2 separate regions of the Homo sapiens genome follow, and region 1 is linked to region 2. Evidence: fine-mapped expression QTL. A gene starts in region 2. The other region holds a variant in brackets. All regions are shown on one strand. Distances are between the middles of the regions.

Region 1 (9,749 bases), 17 kb before region 2:
CTGCGCCCAGCCCCACCAAGCCCTCATTTTTGAAGTGAAATAAAGGAAAAGGCTTAAATAGCGTGAAAGCGAATGAAGTCATAATAAAACAGCTAATCTCTATTGAGAGCTTTCTCATAACCAAGGCTTTCCTAAGAGCTTTCCATGAATTAACTCATTTACTGTGTATAACAACCTTACTATTGACAGTCTGCCTTCAGATCCCAGCTTTGTGACCCAAGGCTTTGTGACTTGGAGCCACTTCACTTCTCTTGGCCTCAGTGCCTTCAATTATAAAATAGGAAAAATAATCATACCCGTTTCTTACCATATTTTATGTGTGCTCTCATTTAAGCTCATGGTAGTCCTGTGAGGTGCAGAGATGGAAGAGATGAAAGCTTGAAGGCTTGAGTTTCTGATAAAAGTTTAAAGGCCTGGAGTAACACCCCACAGCTAGGAAGTGGTGAGTCTAGTACCCCACCCTCACTGCACTTGAACCAGAGCGTGCACACTCCCAGCCACTAAGCATTCGCCTGAGTGGAGGCTGAAATGATCTGCTGTCTGCAGTAAGGCCACAGGAAATGCTCTTGGAACCTGGTCTCCATGAGATATCTATCAGGAACTTTTCACAACACCAGAAATGAAGGAAATTCTCATTTTTATTTTGATATATTATAAGCAAATATGTACGTTTTGGCACAATGAGAAATGTTTAGGAATTTTGACTAAAAAATTCTTTCTGGCAAGATTCTTTAGCCACTGAAATTTTAAGTGGTACTTACGGTTGTATGTATCTGACTCGCATCTGGGTGGCTACAACCAATTACCAACTACTGACAGCAAAAGAAAGACTTGCAAATATGATTTCACATCTGCATTTTTTATTTTATATTTAGCTCTTTGTCTTATCATGTTTGTCTAACTGTAGCTCTCTCTCTCTCACTGACAGGGTAATGTCTTTAAAATCTCACTACACAAAGTACTGGCTTTGTGAAAAGGCTCTGACCTATTTTGCCCTGCCTGGATTGGTTTTAACATCATGTAGATAGTAAGTAACAAACTCATTAAACCATTTCCATTCTTGTCTTAGGGGACAACGTGGTGCCCTCCCCTTTTACATGTTGCTTCTCTTATCAGCTTCACTGGCTTTGTCTACTAACCCCATGCCTGGGGAATTATAAGGAAGGGATTCGGGCACCGTGTTGTCTGCGGCATGAATCTTGCCAGGCTGTGGCTGTCACCAAGGTTATTGGACACTCCTCCCTGAGCAGGACCCACCTGGGAGGCATGCAGATGACAAGTGCCACTCAACCTTTTCCTCAGTGCCTGCTGGGCCCCGTGTGCATGTTCAGGTAATGAGAGGAACCTCGGAGCAAGTGGAGTAAGTGAGTGTGGTCACTCCAACAACAGACCAACCCATGAGAGGTCTGATTTCACGTTAAAATGGGAAATATTTGGTTGAATGGAATTGACGGAAAGGCAGGAATAGCCTTTCTCATTCCCTCATGGATAGAAAAAATGCACAAACCACGTTATCTGTTGGGTTGCATGGAATCGCTCTGACTGTTTTATTACCACCATTCACGTAGCATTTTATGTGAAAGGGAATGCTGGGCGCAGTGGCTTACGCCTGTAATCTCAGCACTTTGGGAGGCCGAGGTGGGTGGATCACCTGAGGTCAGGAGTTCAAGACTAGTCTGGCCAACATGTGGAAACCCTGTCCCTACCAAAAATAATAATAATAATAATAATAATAATAATAATAGTAATAAATTAGCCAGGCGTGGTGGCGGGAGCCTGTAATCCCAGCTACTGGGAGGCTGAGGCAGGAGAATTGCTTGAACTTGGGAGGTGGAGGTTGCTGTGAGCTGAGATTGCGCCACTGCACTCCAGCCTGGGCAACAGGGCACCACTCCGTCTCAAATAAATAAATAAATAAATAAGAAAAAAAGAAAGGGAATGCAGGTGTGAAAGCTTCCGATTCGTCACCTAGCAAAATTACACTGAAAAGTCCCCAAGCTCTTTGAACCAACTGCAAGGTCGTCAGCTTGTAGCCTCAAGTCCTCATGATCTATCCCATTACTTCATATCTCAAAAAGTCTTAATATGTGTTTTCCACAGTGATGGCCTCTCATTGGCCACCATGTCACTCTCACCTCAGGGTAAAGAGGTTGTGTCATGCGGCTTAAAACCTGGGCACATAGATGGTTACTTTGGCAGCGTTCTTATATAAACAGATGAAGACAGCTGATAACATTAGCAACTTCCTGTGTCATCTCGTTTTTCTCGGGCACTTGCTTCTCTGAGATTATTTATGTTTTCTGTATTAGTCCATGGCAACCGCTTAACACAGCTGCACCAAATGTCATTCCCAGAAAGATCAGTTGCTTAGTCTCCTTGCCTCCATTCTATTTTGGGAGTGGCATGGACTTTTGGCGATGCCCAGTTGAGCTCTTGTCCACATCAAGTTATGAGCGGTGGTTTGTAAGAGAGTTTGCCCCTTGGCCTTGGTCTTTAGGAGAAAAAATAAATTCTATTCATTTACTCACATGCCATCATTACTCATATTTAAATTCTAAAAGATTAAAAACAAGAAACATTTTTTTCTGCATTAAGAAATCTAAAGTTTTAAAAAATCTCTAATAATGAACTGAGGTAATACATGCATTGATAAACAAAATGGAAATAGTATAGAAAAACAGAACTGATAAACTGATAAAAACATAACTGATAAACAGCTGCCTCCATTTCACACTTCCTCACCCTAGCAACTCCTAGATCATCCCAGAAAACATTTCTACTTTTATTCCTGTTGGTTGCCTACAGAACTCTAAATAATATATTTTCACATCTCTTCTTTGACCTTTTTAAAAATTAGCCTTTTTTTTTTTTTGAGACAGAGTCTCATTCTGTCACCCAGGCTGGAGTGCAATGGCATGATCTCCGCTCACTGCAAGCTCTGCCTCCCGGGTTCACGCCATTCTCCTGCCTCAGCCTCCCAAGTAGCTGGGATTACAGGTGCCCGCCACCACACCCGGCTAATTTTTTGTATTTTTAGTAGAGACGGGGTTTCACCATGTTAGCCAGGATGGTCTTGATCTCCTGACCTTGTGATCCCCCCGCCTTGGCCTCCCAAAGTGCTGGGATTGCAGGCGTGAGCCACTGCGCCCAGCCTAAAAAATCAGCCTTTTTTTTAACACAGCTTTATTGATGGGTAATGTACATATCATAAAACTCACTAAATGTGTAATGAAATGAATTTTAGCAAAGTTACAGAGTTGTGCAAGCATCCCCACAGCCCAATTTTAGAACACACCTATCACTTCAGAAGATCCCTCTTGACCACTTGCAGTGATTTCACTCTTCAGTCCCAGCCACAGGAATTCCTAATTTCTTTACTGGTTCTATAGATTTGCCTATTGTAGACATTTCATAAAAATGGAAATAACCAATCAAATTCAGACAATATTTATTGACTTTCTGATACAAAAGATAAAGATTTATCTCGCTTATAGAACTGCCTTCCCTGTCTCTATTTTCCCCAATTTTTGGTAATTATATATTATTTTAAAAATTCCTATGTTGGCTTTTTTCTTTTTCAGACGGTCTCACTCTGTCACCCAGGCTAGGATGCAGTGGCGTGATCTCGGCTCACTGCAACCTCCGCCTCCCGGATTCAAGTGATTCTCCTGCCTCAGCCTCCCAAGTAGTTGGAACTACAGATGCACACCACTGCGCCCAGTCAATTTTTGTATTTTTAGTAGAGACGGGGTTTCACCATGTTGGCCAGGCTGGTCTTGAACTCCTGGCTTCAAGTGATCCGTCCGCCTCAGCCTCCCAAAGTGCTGGGATTACAGGCATGAGCCACCGCACCCAGCCTATGTTGGCTATTTTTGTCATTTTAAGCAATATATTCCTTCTATTTGTGTGCGTGTGTGTGTTGTTCCATAAGCCTCTGTCAACGTCTTTTGCCTCCCTTGCTCCATATAAAATGCCTTACATTCCTCCCTCTTTTCCCCTACCCTTATTCATGGAATAACTGTGAATCATTGTTAGGACTTTATTGTTATGAAAGCCAATAATCTTTTATCTTTTATTCTACAACT[A/T]CAATTAAGTCTTACATGTCTGTAGGTTGATTCTAAAAGTAGAAAACTAGAGCAGCCTTTATGATTTTGTCTACATTGCTCAATGTAGAGCCAGGGCTGTGCCAGGATGCCATTTCCTTCCCTCCATGTCCTGTGCATCTGTCATGGTGCTCCTGGGGCGATGCTACTCACTTCATAGTTAAGCAGGCTCCCTTCCCACATCCTTCATCAAATGCTCCATGTCACAGTAAAATAAGGGTCACACGTGAGCCATTTCTTTATACCTTGTTTTAGATGATTTTTCCTCTAGTTTTAGATGATTTTTTTATCCTTCCTATTGGAAAAGGATAAAAAATCTTAGGAACTTCCATTGTGTCCTAAAATTTATCTGCCTTCCAATCACACTACCATGTGAAGTCCTTCTTCCCCAGAGTCCTTAATTGTTCTGAATTTAAGTGGATTTTCTCTGGGCTGAATGCACAAGCCTTCAGCCTGAGTCTTCTGTTCACTGGGTTCCTGGAGCCAGTGCTAATCTCCAAAATGTGTCCTTTCTTGGTTTCCATCTTCTTTGACTGGAGTATAACCTCCAGTAAACTCCTGGGGAGGGGAAGAAAGGTATGAGAGAGGTGAATTTCCAGTATCGCATCAAATGTATTATTTTCTCTTTCATCATTTATTGTTTGTCTACACCTATTATTGAACTTTCAAAATTGTTTTCCCTCTGAATTGGAGGGTATTGCTTCAATGTTTTCTAACATTTTGTGCTGCTGATAAGAAAACTCTGCTGCAGTCTAGCTCCTGCTCCTTAGCTGCTGGGCTGTTTTTTGCCTTTGTAAGATTTTTAGGATCTTCCATTTATTGTTAGTTACTGTTCTGAAGTTTCACAAAGATGCATTTCAGGCTTCTTTATTTTTATCCTGCTTGGAATTCAACCTCAAGACATAACATTTTTAGTTCTGAGAAAAGTTTTTAAAAAATGATTTTACAAAAATCACACACAGACGCACAGATGATTTCCCTTCATTTCACTGCTCTCTCTTTTAAAAACTCTTGCTGGTCTAATATTAGATATCCTGGATTACTTCTTTCTTGTAGTTTTTAAAAAATATTTTCCTATCTCACTCAGGAAATATACTTTTTCACCTTGTATAAGTTATTTTTTATCAATTTTAAAATAATTTCTTTGAAAGATTTTTTGGGGGGAAGCAATCATATTTTTCATTTCCAAACAATTTTTCTGTTCTCTGATCTCTTTTCAAGACATTCTGTCCTGGTTTTTATGTTTTAAATGAAAAATTACTTGAATCAGATAAATTATTTAAATTCTCCTTTGTCATCTCTAATGACTCAATTCAATTTTCTTTTAAAGAATTACTTTATGGGGGGCTGGGAGGTGGCTCATGCCTGTAATCCCAGCACTTTGGGAGGTCAAGGTGGGCGGATCACTTGAGGTCAGGAGTTTGAGACCAGCTTGGCCAACATGGCAAAACCCCATCTCTACTAAAAATACAAAAATTAGCTGGGCATGGTGGCAGGCACCTGTAATCTCAGCTACTCGGGAGGCTAAGGCCTGAGAATCACTTGAACCTGGGAGGTGGAGATTGCAGCGAGCGGAAATCACGCCATTGCACTCCAGCCTCGACAACAGACTGAGACTACGTCTCAAAAAAAAAAAATTCTCATCTGTTATCTGAATATTTTTCTTTTTCTGGTTTTTTTCTTTTTCTTCTCTTCAAGGTCACTTGCTCTGTTTACTTTCTTTTTTTTCTTTTCTTTTCCTTTCTTTTTTTTTTTTGAGATGGAGTCTCGCTCCCATCATGTAGGTGGAGTGCAGTGGCATAATCTTGGCTCACTGCAACCTCCACCTCCTGGGTTCAAGCGATTCTCCTGACTCAGCCTCCCAACTAGCTGGGATTATAGGCATGCGCCACCACACCCAGCTAATTTTTGTATTTTCAGTAGAGATTGGGTTTTGCCATGTTGGTCAGGCTAGTCTCGAACTCCTGACCTCAGGTGATCCACCTGCCTTGGCCTCCCAAAGTGCTGGGATTACAGAAGTGTGCCACTGCACCCTGCCTGACTTTTTTCTGAATTTGTTTGCTGATCCTTTCTTTTGTTTTTCAAGGTCTTAAAAACTTTTCTTTTGAGCTATTGACAGCTTTAACAATTTAGTACACTCCTGTGAACAAAATTTGGAACACATTTGTTTCTCTCTACCTGATTTCTCCAGAATTGTAAAGTACTTGCGAGTATTCTTAACTTACAGCAACACAGTTATTTGCATAAGTGCAATAAGAATCTGTTTTCATTTTAACAGGATGCAATTGGAGAAATTGGTTCTTTTACCAAGGCTTTGACTGGAATGGTGTGCTTTCCTTTAAGGAATCAAACTTGACTTATAGAGCCAATAAGACCTTGGAAAAATTAGCCTCATATTTTGTGTACACACTGTATAGGGTTTCTGACCCATGGTAAGTAAAGAATGTCACTTACTGACAGGCACAGAAGTCCCAGGTTTATCTTGAAACCCTGACAGCAGGAAATTTCACCCAACTCATGGGTATTTGATAGCACAATCCATGGCTGGGCTGGGCTTTAAGAAGTCTTATCTGAGATTCCTCTTATGGAACAAAGTTCCATCAAAGCCAATTTAAAAGCCTATGTAAAAATAATAATTATTTTTGCTGCACTGCATACAAATACTTAGGCCAAGTATAATAACCAAACCAGCCCTACCATGATTTATCTTTAGTAAAATGGGGAACTGGAGAGAGAAAAAAATTATTTCAAAATGATTATATATCTGTTGTTAGATTCTAGTCTTGCCTAATGTTTTTTTCCAATTTTTATTATTTTCTACAGTTTGGACCAAATTCTAATTTTTCTTGGCTACAAGTCTTCAAAATAATGTTTTCAATTTTTTTCCGTCTCTTTTTCATTTTTCCTAATTTGAAGTCACTGAAAACTAAGTTGTTCTTCTTTAAAACCCTGCAAGCTGGCCGGGCGCGGTGGCTCACGCCTGTAATCCCAGCACTTTGGGAGGCCGAGGCGGGTGGATCACGAGGTCAGGAGATCGAGACCATCCTGGCTAACAAGGTGAAACCCCGTCTCTACTAAAAATACAAAAAAATTAGCCGGGCGCGGTGGCAGGCGCCTGTAGTCCCAGCTACTCGGGAGGCTGAGGCAGGAGAATGGCGTGAACCCGGGAAGCGGAGCTTGCAGTGAGCCGAGATTGCGCCACTGCAGTCCGCAGTCCGGCCTGGGCGACAGAGCGAGACTCCGTCTCAAAAAAAAAAAAAAAAAAAAAAAAAAAAAAAACCCTGCAAGCTGAAGACAGACAACTTAAACTTCGGCAGAAAATAACAGTAACCTGTTTACATACATAAGGCACTTTCATGCCTGCCTACTAATGTATGGACTTCAGAGTAATGTGGCCCATATCAAATTTTTTTTTTGAGAAAGGGTATCTATCACTCTGTCACCCAGGCTGGAGTGCAGTGATGCGATCTTGGCTCACTGAAACCTCCGCCTCCTGGGTTCAAGCGATTCTCCTTCCTCAGCCTCAGAAATTTGAGACAGGTCTCAGTCTCAAATTTCTGAGGCTCACACTCCTATGCAAGGAAGGAAGGCAACATGTTTTCTAATGCCACATGAAATTAAAGCACAAAATGAAACTTGGATGCTTGAAAGAACAGACTTTCTGTAAGTTATTGTGACATGCTCCATAGTTTATTGACAGCAGAGTTGGTGATGATATTGATATTACACTGTCAAAATGTATCACCAAACATCTTTAAATTTGATAAAAGATTGTGAATTTTTGTTTTCTATCAGGAGAAGACAACATATAGGAAATTCATGGATCCAGAATCCATTTCTTTCATCAAAAGATAATTTAAACTTAACTATAATTTATGGATAAATTATTGAATCTGACTACTAATGAACAGTAGAAGATGAATTTAGAAATATAGTATCATTTACATTACTTTGAATGAAAGTTTAAAAATGAATATTCTGAGCTTAATAAAATGTTTTAAAAATCTCTTCTTCCACCTTATCAACATAATTCTGTGAGGCTAGTTTTGTACAGTGTAGATTATAAAAACACAACATTAAAATAGGTGACAGTAGTAAAAATGGCAGATTAAGAACATCCAAAATTTTGTTCCTTCGTAACAGTAATGAAAAAACTGGCAAAGAAAAGCAGAATCCATTTTTTCAACTCTCTTGGCATTAACCAAAGACTTTCAGCCATCCAGGGAGCATTTATTCAAGAAAAATATCTGAATCTTGGTAAGAACTGTAATCTTTACAACATTTGAAACTTACCTTAGGCCCATCTCCCACTCTTCAGCTCAGCAATAGCCTAGAAAAATAACAACTGCATTCCAGTATTAAAGGATCAGAACAGAGCTGGAGCTCATTCAAAGCCTCAGTCCCAAAGAACTGACATTGTTTGATCCATCCTTAGAAGGCTCCACTGAAAAGGTACATTTTTACTTGATGTGGTTTGAACTTGCCAAGTGTAAAAAGTCTCTCCCAGGGGTTAAGAGGCATTTATTGAAAATAATTTTAGGCACGTCTTTTAACTATCAGGCTGCATGAGATGGATGATAGTGCAAACAATAGACTAACCAAGAAGATTAAAGGGAAAAGCTGTGGAATAAGATGTCCATAGGAGCTTTGAAATGCTCTGACATATTCCTGAGAATTTGGAAGGTCAGGGGCATATGTAGGCCTGTGGGCATTCTGAAGAAAGAGCTGAGGAGGCCTGAGCTCTCACTTCTTGGTGACCTTAAGGTTCTGCACAAGCAGAAAGTAAAGGCTAAAACAGCATTGTGAACTGCCTGGTGGAGTGTTAAAGGTATGATCCAACATGTATATAGTAACCCATGGCAAAGATTTAGAGGTTTATTGGTTCCAGCATTTAAAGAAATCTCTGTTCAATCATTAGATGTCCAATCACTAAGCTAATTGATAACTCCCATGACCACATATAATAAACAATACATACTTTATAGAATTAGTTCAGAAAAGCCATGAAATAAATAAAAACAACATTTAAAAGCAAGGAGCAACAACACAATTCAGCAGGGAAGAATATGATTTTCAGACTTGTAATATTATATTTTTTTAAATGTCAAAATTTCAACATAAAATTGTGAGACATGCAAAGAAACATAAAATTATGTCCCATACACACACACGGAAAGCAATTGATAGAAGTTGGCCCTAAGAGGCCCAAATGTTGTGCTTACTAGACAGAGAGTAAAATTAGCTATTTAAACATATGTTCAAAGAGTTAAAGGAAACTATGTCTGAAGAACTGAAGCAAAGAATGATGTATTTGTCCATTTTCACAGTGCTATAAAGATACAACTTGAGACTGGGTAATTTACAAACAAAGGAGGTTTTATTGACTCACAATTCCACATGGCTGGGGAGGCCTCAGGAAACTTAGAATCATGGCAGAAGGGGAAGCAGGCACCTTCTTCACAGGGCAGCAGGAGAGTGAGGGAGAGACAGAGCAATGGAGGAACCATCACACACTTATAAAACCATCAGATCTCATGAGGACTTTCTCACTATCATGAGAACAGCATGGGGGGAACCGCCCCATGATCCAATCACCTCCCACAAGGTCCCTTCCTTGAAACTTGGGGATTACAATTCGAGATGTGA
Region 2 (9,749 bases):
AATACAAAAAATTAGCCGGGCTTGGTGGAGGGCGCCTGTAGTCCCAGCTATTCAGGAGGCTGAGGCAGGAGAATGGCATGAATCTGGGAGGCAGAGCCTGCAGTGAGCTGAGATGGTGCCACTGCGCTCCAGCCTGGGTGACAGAACGAGACTCCATCTCAAAAAAAAAAAAAAGAAATATAATCTTTTGTCTCTTGAGTCTGGTAATAAAACATTTGGGCTTGTATTTTGTGTGCCTTTGCTTTTTAAATTTTATTTTTCTAGTAATTTATTTCTACTATATTTTAAAAAGTAACCTTCTGCAATGGATTTGAAATTTTAACACAAAAGCTGGTCCTTCACCACAGATGCTTTGCGAAGCACTTGTGTGGGGCACCTGGATGTGGACGGAGTACTCTGTAATAAATTATCTACAACAGAAGATTTACATCTTCCTAGGTAAATGTGTGAAATTCCTTCATTCTTTATCTTTTGTAACAGTGACAATGTTGACCTTCCAGATGCTCTGGAAGGGTGGGAAAGGGAGGGGTGACTGGCAGGGCTGTGACATAGTGGTGTACATATTCCATCATTCCCTTTGCTTCGCTCCTTCTCTTTCAGGTCTCCAATAGAGGAGGCTGGCTCCTTCTTACAGAGCCTCCAACAACGATTATATTCTGGGCTTCAGCATCCTTCGCTTGCCTGTACATTAGCTTTCTTATTTTATTTTATTTTATTTTATTTTATTTTATTTTATTTTTGAGACAGAGTATTGCTCTGTCATCCAGGCCGGAGTACAGTGGCGCGATCTCGACTCACTGCAACCTCCGCCTCCTGGGTTCAAGCAATTCTCCTGCCTCGGCCCCCCGAGTAGCTGGGACTACAGGCACACCCCATCACGCCCGGCTAATTTTTGTATTTTTAGTAGAGATGGGGTTTTACCACATTGGTCAGGCTGGTCTCGAACTCCTAACCTCAGGCGATCAACCCACCTTGGCCTCCCAAAGTGCTGGGATTATAGGCGTGAGCCACTGCGCCAAGCTTGTACATCAGCTTTTTGTCCTCTGGAAATGTGTTGAAATTTCTTGTCTACTGATACCCTTCCATGCTTTTTTTGTTGCATGAGTTTATTCCTCTTTGTATTTCTACGTTGTCATTTCATTGGGGTCTCAGGAGGGACACGAGGTAAACACATATGTTCAGTATGTCATCCTGAACTAGAATAGCCAGGTTTTGGTTATGGAAAATAATAATGCTGAATGTTTTTTGTCTAAGCATACATTTTCATTTCTCTGTGTAGATATTTAGAAGTGGATGTATTTAACTTACTGAGTCACTGACAAACTGTTTTCCAAAGCGACTGTATCTTTTCTACATTCTCACCAGCAATGTATAAGGATTCCAGTTCCTCTAAATCTTTACCAGAATTCAATATTTTCAGTTTTTCTGATTAGAGACATTCTAGTATGTGTGTCATAGTATCTCAGTATGGTTTTAGTTCGCATTTCTTTAAGCACTGATAATGTTGAGCAACTTTTCATATGCTTATCTGCTATCATAATATATTCTTTGGTGAATTATCTGTTCATATCTTTTGCTCAACATTTTGAATTGTCTTTTTTTAATGGAGTGATAAGAGTTCTCTATTCTGATGCAAGTCCTTTTTCAGACACATGATTTGCAAATATTTAGTCTTAGCTTGAGACTAAACTTCGCATTTTCTTTTTTCTTTTTTTTTTTGGAGACGGAGTCTCGCTCTGTTGCCCAGGCATTACAATAATAAATTTCCCAATATTAAACCATTCTTCAATTCCTAAAGTAAATTCTATTTAGCCTACTCTTTTAATATGTGGTTAAAATATTTTTATAATATTTTGTGATTTTACACCTATATTCATAAAAAGATCATAGCTTCGCGTCTTTTTAAAGGTTTTTATCTTTTGTTATTAAGATTGTTCTTGCTTCATAAAATGAACTCAATAATTGTCTTTGTTTTTTCTCTATGTTTTAGTACAGCCTGAATAGCCTATGAATGATGTATTATCACAGAATTTAAAGACATTTACTTCTAAAGCCCCTTAAGTCTAAAATCATGGTTCTCAAATCTAATTGCATATTAAAATCACCTGGAGAGCTTTAAAAACTCTCAATGCACAGGCCACACCCCTGATAAAAGAATTCAGAATCTCGGATGTAAGGATTTTTAAATGCAAAATAAAATGAAAGGCTCAATAGTTTATAAAGTTTGTGCTAGATCTAATCTTTTCTGGTTTTGTCTGTAATTGGTCCAATAGTAAATATTGATTCATCTGTAATTGTTCTGACATCAACTAATGGTGTCCATAGCAATAGCACTACAAGCCAGTTTCTCTGCCTTTATCTCGCTTTAATTGTACACAAAACTAATAAGGCAAAGCACGTAATATAATAACTATTTTAAAAGCAAATGAAACAAACTTTGGAAGGTTAAGTGGCAAAGCCGCTTGACTCCCATCACTTTGGCATTTCAATCAATAATAGAGTCTAAAGACCAAACAATAAAACAATGGTTAACATAGAAAAAAAGAAATACGAGTTCATTAACTAACCAGGAGATCTTATTTCCAAAGAGTAAATCTGATTACATTGTTCCTGTTTAAAACCCTTCAATGGCTTCCTTATGCCTAAAAGGAAAAAAAAAATCCAAATTCCTTTGTGTGGCATAAGAGGTTCTTTGTGTAACACAAGATCTGGCCCCTCATCACCTCTCCAGTCGTATTTCTCAAAAGACCTCTCTTGCTTCCTATACTCAGTCATGCAAAATGTTCTGCAATTCTCTGAATGCCCTGGCTTTTCTTTTCCTTTTTGTGCCCATGTCTGTGCCCAAGTTATTTGCTTTTTCTGAAAGATCTATCTTTCAAAACCTTCTTTTCCCTCCCTCCCTCCAACCCTGTTGACCAACTTATCTTTTAAAGTCTGATTCAGTTTCAGGGCCATCTCCTCCGAGACCTTCCTTCCTGACTGCTTCTCGAGTTCCCCTATAAAACAGTGACTGCCCAAAGAGCAGCAACAGTTTGTAAATCATTCCATTCATGCTGCCTAGAACAAAGCTGCAGTTGTGTTTAGTAAAGGTTTATCAAATGGATGAAGACTGGTCACTATTAGTCTTGACCCCTTCTATTTGAAATATGTGAAATACACAAAGTAAAATATAATTTCTGATAGGGGCTGATATCAGGAACTGTAGGAGATCTGTCCATTGAACCCAAGGTCTTACCTATTAAATCTCTACTGTTGCCAGTCTGCGCTCCTGGATTTTCAAGGGGCTCCGTGGAATTGGGAGGCTGATGAAGCTGGTGACCACCCTCCGTAAGCATGCTGTGTTGGTGATTCCAGTGCTTACTCCTTTCCTCAAATGTGGTCATAAGAAGTCAGGAAAGTCAATATGCTTTCACTAGGAAAAAAGGAGGAAAGCCTGCTTTAGTTGGTTGTTACATTTTTGATGAGGCGAAAATTCAAACAAAACTGTAACCACAAGGACCATTAATTGTTCTTTCCTGCTAATAACCATAGTTAGCCAATTGGATTGTGAGTGTGTGGCATGCTTGTATTGTGTATGTGAGTAGGGAATGCACGTGCGTTAAAGTTCACATGTGCTTAAGAGCTTAGACACACCCGCAATTTGCAAGACAGCTTCATGTCCTGATGTGGCCAAAGCTGTGTAAGAAGCCTGAGCTGTAATTACTCCGCACAAATTTACATCCTGGGGTACTCACATCATCCTGTGGTCTGTATGCTCTGTGGCTACACACCTGGCTGAGAACAGAATTAATGATGAGAAACGTGCCTGCTTCTCTGCATAAAAGATGATGTCTGAGTAGAAGGTCGCCAAGGGAGGATTAAGAGCAAGAATGCGAGAATGTGCTCAGGAATCCGTGCGTGAGATGATGAGCTTGTGAGCTGATGTTGATTCTGTGCAGTTCCCAGTGTCTTATTCACAGGCAAGATTTTCTTGCTCATCGTTCAGCCTTCAATGTTTTAAGCAAAGATTTTTAAAAAGATCTAACAGGAAACGAGGAGCTGCAGTGAAGCTTGGGCAGTCAGTTCGAATCTGAATAAATATTTGTCAGATTGGAGAAGCGCTGAAAGCATTAAGATACTTGGAGATTTCTCTTTTTCTTTGGCAAGAAGCATGACTGAGACAGGTAAGGGCTAGGAATTCTTCCGGATCACTCCCTCCAACAATGGTCTTTCCTTTGAATTTGCACTTTGGAGTCTGACACAGATTAGTGCTTCCTAGTCCTCTAACTGTAACACATGCCTCAGTTTCCCTTCTCCGATAAGATTGCAATATCTTTGGGTGCAGGAAAAAAAATAGTTGATCCTTTTCTTTGTAGCCCAGCAAGTTCCAGGCACATTAGAAACTGATTAGAAACTGGTACACAAGTGTTACTTGCTTAATTTATTATAAATGCTTTAAAAATGAGGCAATGACTATCATTGAAAAATAAAACCAAACTGTGAAGAACTTCTCTCTTCCTGTTAGTGGAGACTTTCCACAGAATTTTTTTTTTTTTTTGGGAGGCAGTGGACATGTTGAGTTTTCAATTGAATATTTTGCTGCAAACAACTTAGGAGGAGAGGAAAAAAGAAAACGCAAAGCCAAACAAAGCTGGTATTTTTCAAGTGCTCATTAATTTCAAAACCACGGTGTCTTTCATTGATTTTTTACCATTAAAAAGGACAGCAATGCCCATCTGCTCAAAATTCCATCCAGAAATGAAATTATGAATTAAAGCTGTGTTACACATGCACAATTGAGACATCCTCTGTTTGGGCCTGCCAGATGACACACTGAAACAGCCTGGGGTCTGCACTTGGGGTGCTGCCAAGGAAGCAGATACACGGCTGATGAAAATCATCCATCATTTCAAATCAGAGGTGCCATATTCCTGCAGACTCCTGTTATGAACAATCTCATTTGATCTTACATTGGAACAAGCTGTCTTCAACACTCAGGCCTGGCCCCAGGCACAACGAGGCAGATGGAATAGGAATCTCTCATTCCATGCCTGCATTTGCCGGAATTCTAGGATTTTGTCAGAAGTTTTCTTGTGTGAACCTAGCCTGACAGGATTAACTTCACTGAGTTGTGCTTCAATATCAGTTCTTACCTCCTTCAATTTGTGCCAAAACTCTCATGGAGGACAGTGTTCATCATTTTTTCACTTAAAACCATATATATGAGTCATTATATAGAGCGATTCTTTTTAGATTCAGTTTCCGGGAAAAAAATTAAAAAGTCACATGATCTTTCTGTCTGCTAATGATATTATGCACGTTGCTCTTGTCTCTATTTTTGCCTTGGCCTCCAGGAAGCTCACAGCCACGTTTTACACTCAAATACAGAAATAATATTACCATATGCTAGTATTACCGTATTTGTGATACTCTTTTCTGTTGATCCTTAGTTTCCATTTCCATTCTTCTTTTATTAAGCCTAACACGTTTTTTGTTGTAAGCTATATCAAAATCATTTTGGAGAAAGGCCAGGCTTATATAAATGATAAAGCATAACCATCTTTTATTTCCCAGCCAAGTGGTTTGTGTTTTAGAGTATATACTTTTAGAAGAAACAGATTGTTTCTTTAAACAGATGAAAATCAAATATCTTCCTTCTTCATGAAGTTAACCACGGTTAGATCATCCACATTGATACAGATGCCTGATAAAAGATCAGGATTGCGTTTGACAACCAGGTTTCTCTTACACATTCTCAGCAGCTTTCAGTCTCTGAAGTTTTTAGTCTTCTTTATTTACTACATTAATCTTGAGAGTAAACAAGGTTCTTATCAAAAATTAATATTTTAATATTAAAAGAATTTATTAGAAAATAATTTATTTAATCTTTTAATATTTAAAAGATATTAAATAAGTTTACAAAGACAACAGCAACTAAGAATGACCATGACTGAATAGAGCAAAACTGTACTAAAATACAACAAATAAAATAAAGGAATATATCCGTGAAATGTTAAGAAAGGCACTGGCCCAAATAATCAGTACTGAGACTCCATCTTGGGTTTGCTTTAAAGCCTCTAGCATGAAGCTGATGGCTGCCCAGTCATCTCAAGGGGCAGCACTGTCCCTTAGGAGCTTACAGTTGAAGCCGACTAGGCAACCCCTAGCCTTGGGCAGAGCTGAAACTCAGCACTTACACACAGGACTGATGTTATAACTCGGAACACAGACTCCTCAGTTTCCTTTGATGCTTTTTTTCTGAGGGCCACTCACATCCGTCTTCTGTCTTCTTTCATGATCCTATCTTAACAATCATGTAAACTCAATCCTTTATCAGACACTCAACAGAAGCAGACTTTGTCAATTACTGGTGGAGAGAGTGTCCTAAAGAAGCTATCCATGAAAACAAGGGTGACCCGGCAGGCTTCACGAAGCCTTCACGAAGCCAGAGGGCAGGGGACATCCACCCTCACTCAGGACACCCTTGGGGCACTCTGTGCATCACCCCGCACAGCTGCTACTAATTAAGCCCTTCTGGGCACCATGTGTTTCCGTGACCTGCTCTTCCTGTGTCTTGTACTCATAATTTTTTCCCATCACATCACATGATCCTGCAGTTTCGGGACAATGCTGACTTCCTCTGCCATCCTCCGCAGCACACAGTGGGGCTCCTGCCACCCCGGGCCTTCTTGTGTCCTAGCTGAGCTGTGGACGGCCCTGCTCTCCCACCGGATCCTCCTGGGTCATGGAAGGATTCTTTGGAGACATGATCAGCTTCCTTACCCACCACCTGTGTGCCTTGGGCAACTGGAGTTCTCAAGCTCCAAGGCCTTCGTTTTCTCAGCTGCAAAATGAAGAGACTGGAACAGCCTCCTGTTTTGAAGAATCCCACCTGAGTTTATATCAGAACAATCTGAGATAGATATATAGATATAGATATATATCTTTTTACATTTTTTAAATGTTCTTTCCCCCAAAACCATGTCCTTTAAGTGGAGGAATCTATTTTTTAAAAATGATGTGGTTGTGCCCTCCAGTGGTTGAGCGTGAAGTCATCAGGCTGTTCGGGTGACAGCAGGGCTCGCAGGAAAGCGCAGGCCGTGCTAAACCGCCGAAGGACGAAGGTGGGTCTAAAGATAGATGAATCTGCTACTCCGGAAAGCACCGAATCGCCGTGTAGACCGGTCACCAAGTATAACTGCGAGCCCCAAGGCGTCACCAGCATGGGCATCCCAGCCTCGGTGCTTCAAGTCCTACTTCTGCTTGGCTATCGGGAAAGGCACGGCTTCGGGGCCACTTCTAGGCTCTCAACACGCGGCCGCTGCTGGGAATCCTGGCGGCCGCGGCTCTTCGCTCTCCAGTGGACCCAGTACTCCGAGAAGCCGCAGAGGCCTGGCCGCTGCAGCCTGCTCCCGACACCCGCTGGTCCGCCCCTCCCGCTCGGCTGCAGGGCTGGGGCGCCCACAGGCGGCAGCCGTCAGCCCGCGCCCGGAGGAAGCCCACGGCCGCCCCGGCTCCCCGCCCGCAGACGCAGCTGCGCAGCCTAGCGGGCTGGGTAGCGGGACAGCAGCGCACGCTGCCCGCTTCCGCTCGCTCCCCCGCGGGCCCTGCTCGATCGTCAGGGTTGCTGCAGGCGGAACTGGAGGAATAAACGCAAAGCCCCAGCCCCTCGTGAATTTCAGGGCCCCTCTCACGTGCAGGGTGTTCCCGCTTATTTCCAGACTCCTTGGATGCAAAACAATGAGTGAAGAACTGACAGTGAAGGCGGAGGGACTTACCTAAGTTATGCAATGATAAATAAATGGCAGATGAAAAATGGGACCTTTGGTTTCTAGTCAAAGTCCTTAGGAAGCGATTCGGCAGACGCAGGCCCAGGTGGCGAGGAGAATGGCCCCTTAGCCAGCTTTTAGGGTTCCGTGAGGGCTGAGCTAGGAGGGAGAGAAAAGGTTAAAGACCCTTCCGGTCCTTAGCATCACCACGAATGAACGTTTACCGAGCACTTACTTTATAAAGAGCACTGTGATAGATGCTGGGGAATATTCAGAGGAATAAATAGGACAATCTCATTTTCCAGGTCTACATTCACTGGAAGGGTCCCCTCCTGCAGGAACTCATTACTGGTCAACCACTGTGCCCTGTATGAAATCTACATGCTGTAGATTTCAGACATGTTTTCTGCCTCCGAGAGATTTATATGCTAGCAAACAAAAAAAGACATATATATAAGGAGATAAATAATAGCCAAGATATTTTTTGAAAAGTATTTGGGGTAAAAATACACATAAAAACATTTACCATCTTAATCATTTGTATGTGTCCTCTTCAGCAGTGTTAAGAACATCCACACCATTGTGCAGCCACACTCCAGAACACTTTTCATCTTGTAAAACTGAAACTCCACAGTCATTAAACAACATTTTCCCATTCCCCTTCCCCTAGCTCCTGAAAAACCACCATTCTACAGATGCTCCTTGACTTATGATGGGGTTAGGTCCAGATAAACCCACAGAAAGTTGACAATGCATTCCATGCCCCTAACCTACTGAACATCACAGCTTAGCCCAGCCTACCTTAAACGTGCTCAGAACACTCACAGTAGCCTACAGTTGGGCAAAATCACCTAACATAAGGCTTATTTTCCAATAAAGTACAAAATATCCCACGTAATGTATTAAATACTGTACTAAAAGTGAGAAGCTCTAATAGTAAGTGCTCAGTAAATGCTCAGAATGGTTCTATGGTGTATTAGTGTGTTCTCACACTGCTGATACAGACATATGGGAGATTGGGTAATTTATAAAGGAAAGAGGTTTAATTGACTCACAGTTCCACATGGCTGAGGAGGCCTCACAATCATGGCAGAAGGCAAAGGAGGAGCAAAGTCACATCTTACATGGCGGCAGGCAGGCAAGGCAGGCAGGCAAGACAGAGCTTGTGCAGGCAAACTCCCATTTATAAAACCATCAGATATCATGAGACTTATTCACTATCATGAGAACAGTATGGTGGAAACTGCCCCCATGACTCAGTTATCTCCACCCTTGACATGTGGGGATTATTACAATTCAAGGTGAGAATTCAAACCATATCATATGGGTACTCAAAGTACAGTTGCTACTGAATGCATACTGATTTTTCACCACTGTAAAGTAAAAAAACCATAAGTCAAGCCATCTTACGTTAAAAATGGTTTGTACTTTGTCTCTATGAATTAGACTATTTTAGGTACCTCATATAAGTGGGATCCTACAGTATTCGTCCTTTTCTGTCTGGCTCATTTAACTTACCATCTTCAAGTTTCACTCATGTTGTAGCACGTGTCAGAAGTTCCTTTCTTTTTAAGGCAGAATAATATTCCATTGTCTGTTTATAGCGCATTTGTGTATCCATTCATCCATCGATGGACACTCGGGCTGCCTCCACCTTTTGGCTGTTGTGAATAATGCTGCAGTGAACATGAGTGTGAAAGCAAACATTTTCAATATTAGTTGGAGTGTCTGCTTTCATTTCTTCTGGGTATACATCCAGAAGACTCTATGGTAATTCTATGTTTATTTTTTTGAGGAACCACCACACTGTTTTCCCTAGTGGCTGTACACTTTTGCATTCCTACCAACAGTACACAAGGGATCCCAAGACATCATTTTCAACCTTAAAAAAAAAAAAAAAGCGGTTTCAGGTTCACAGAAAAGCTTCACAAAGAGTACAAAGAACACCCATATTCCCCAGTTGTTAGTATTTTACCACATTTGCTTCATCAGCTTTTGTCT

Direction of the effects. Positions count from the first base shown, and alleles are read on the strand shown. Sizes are in standard deviations (SD) of each study's normalised expression.
For the expression in left ventricle of the gene that starts at base 4,414 in region 2, allele T in region 1 goes with a higher level than allele A (large effect, 0.85 SD a copy in GTEx).

Evidence for each region. PIP is the estimated chance that this variant, and not a neighbour inherited with it, causes the effect.
Region 1: its variant is fine-mapped to the expression of LINC00327 in left ventricle (GTEx, PIP above 0.99).

Annotation. Positions count from the first base shown.
Region 1 is chr13:23,481,147-23,490,895 of GRCh38, reverse strand. LINC00327 (long intergenic non-protein coding RNA 327) reads right to left here. Exons shown (of 3, transcript NR_038995.1): 3 at 3,432-4,661. Among named protein-coding and RNA genes, the nearest start is that of LINC00327, 17 kb to the right of the region's middle. The variant A/T (reference allele first, on the strand shown) is at 4,086.
Region 2 is chr13:23,464,177-23,473,925 of GRCh38, reverse strand. LINC00327 (long intergenic non-protein coding RNA 327) reads right to left here and starts at 4,414. Exons shown (of 3, transcript NR_038995.1): 1 at 3,735-4,414; 2 at 3,236-3,412. RefSeq lists an enhancer at 7,084-7,243 and a silencer at 7,354-7,633.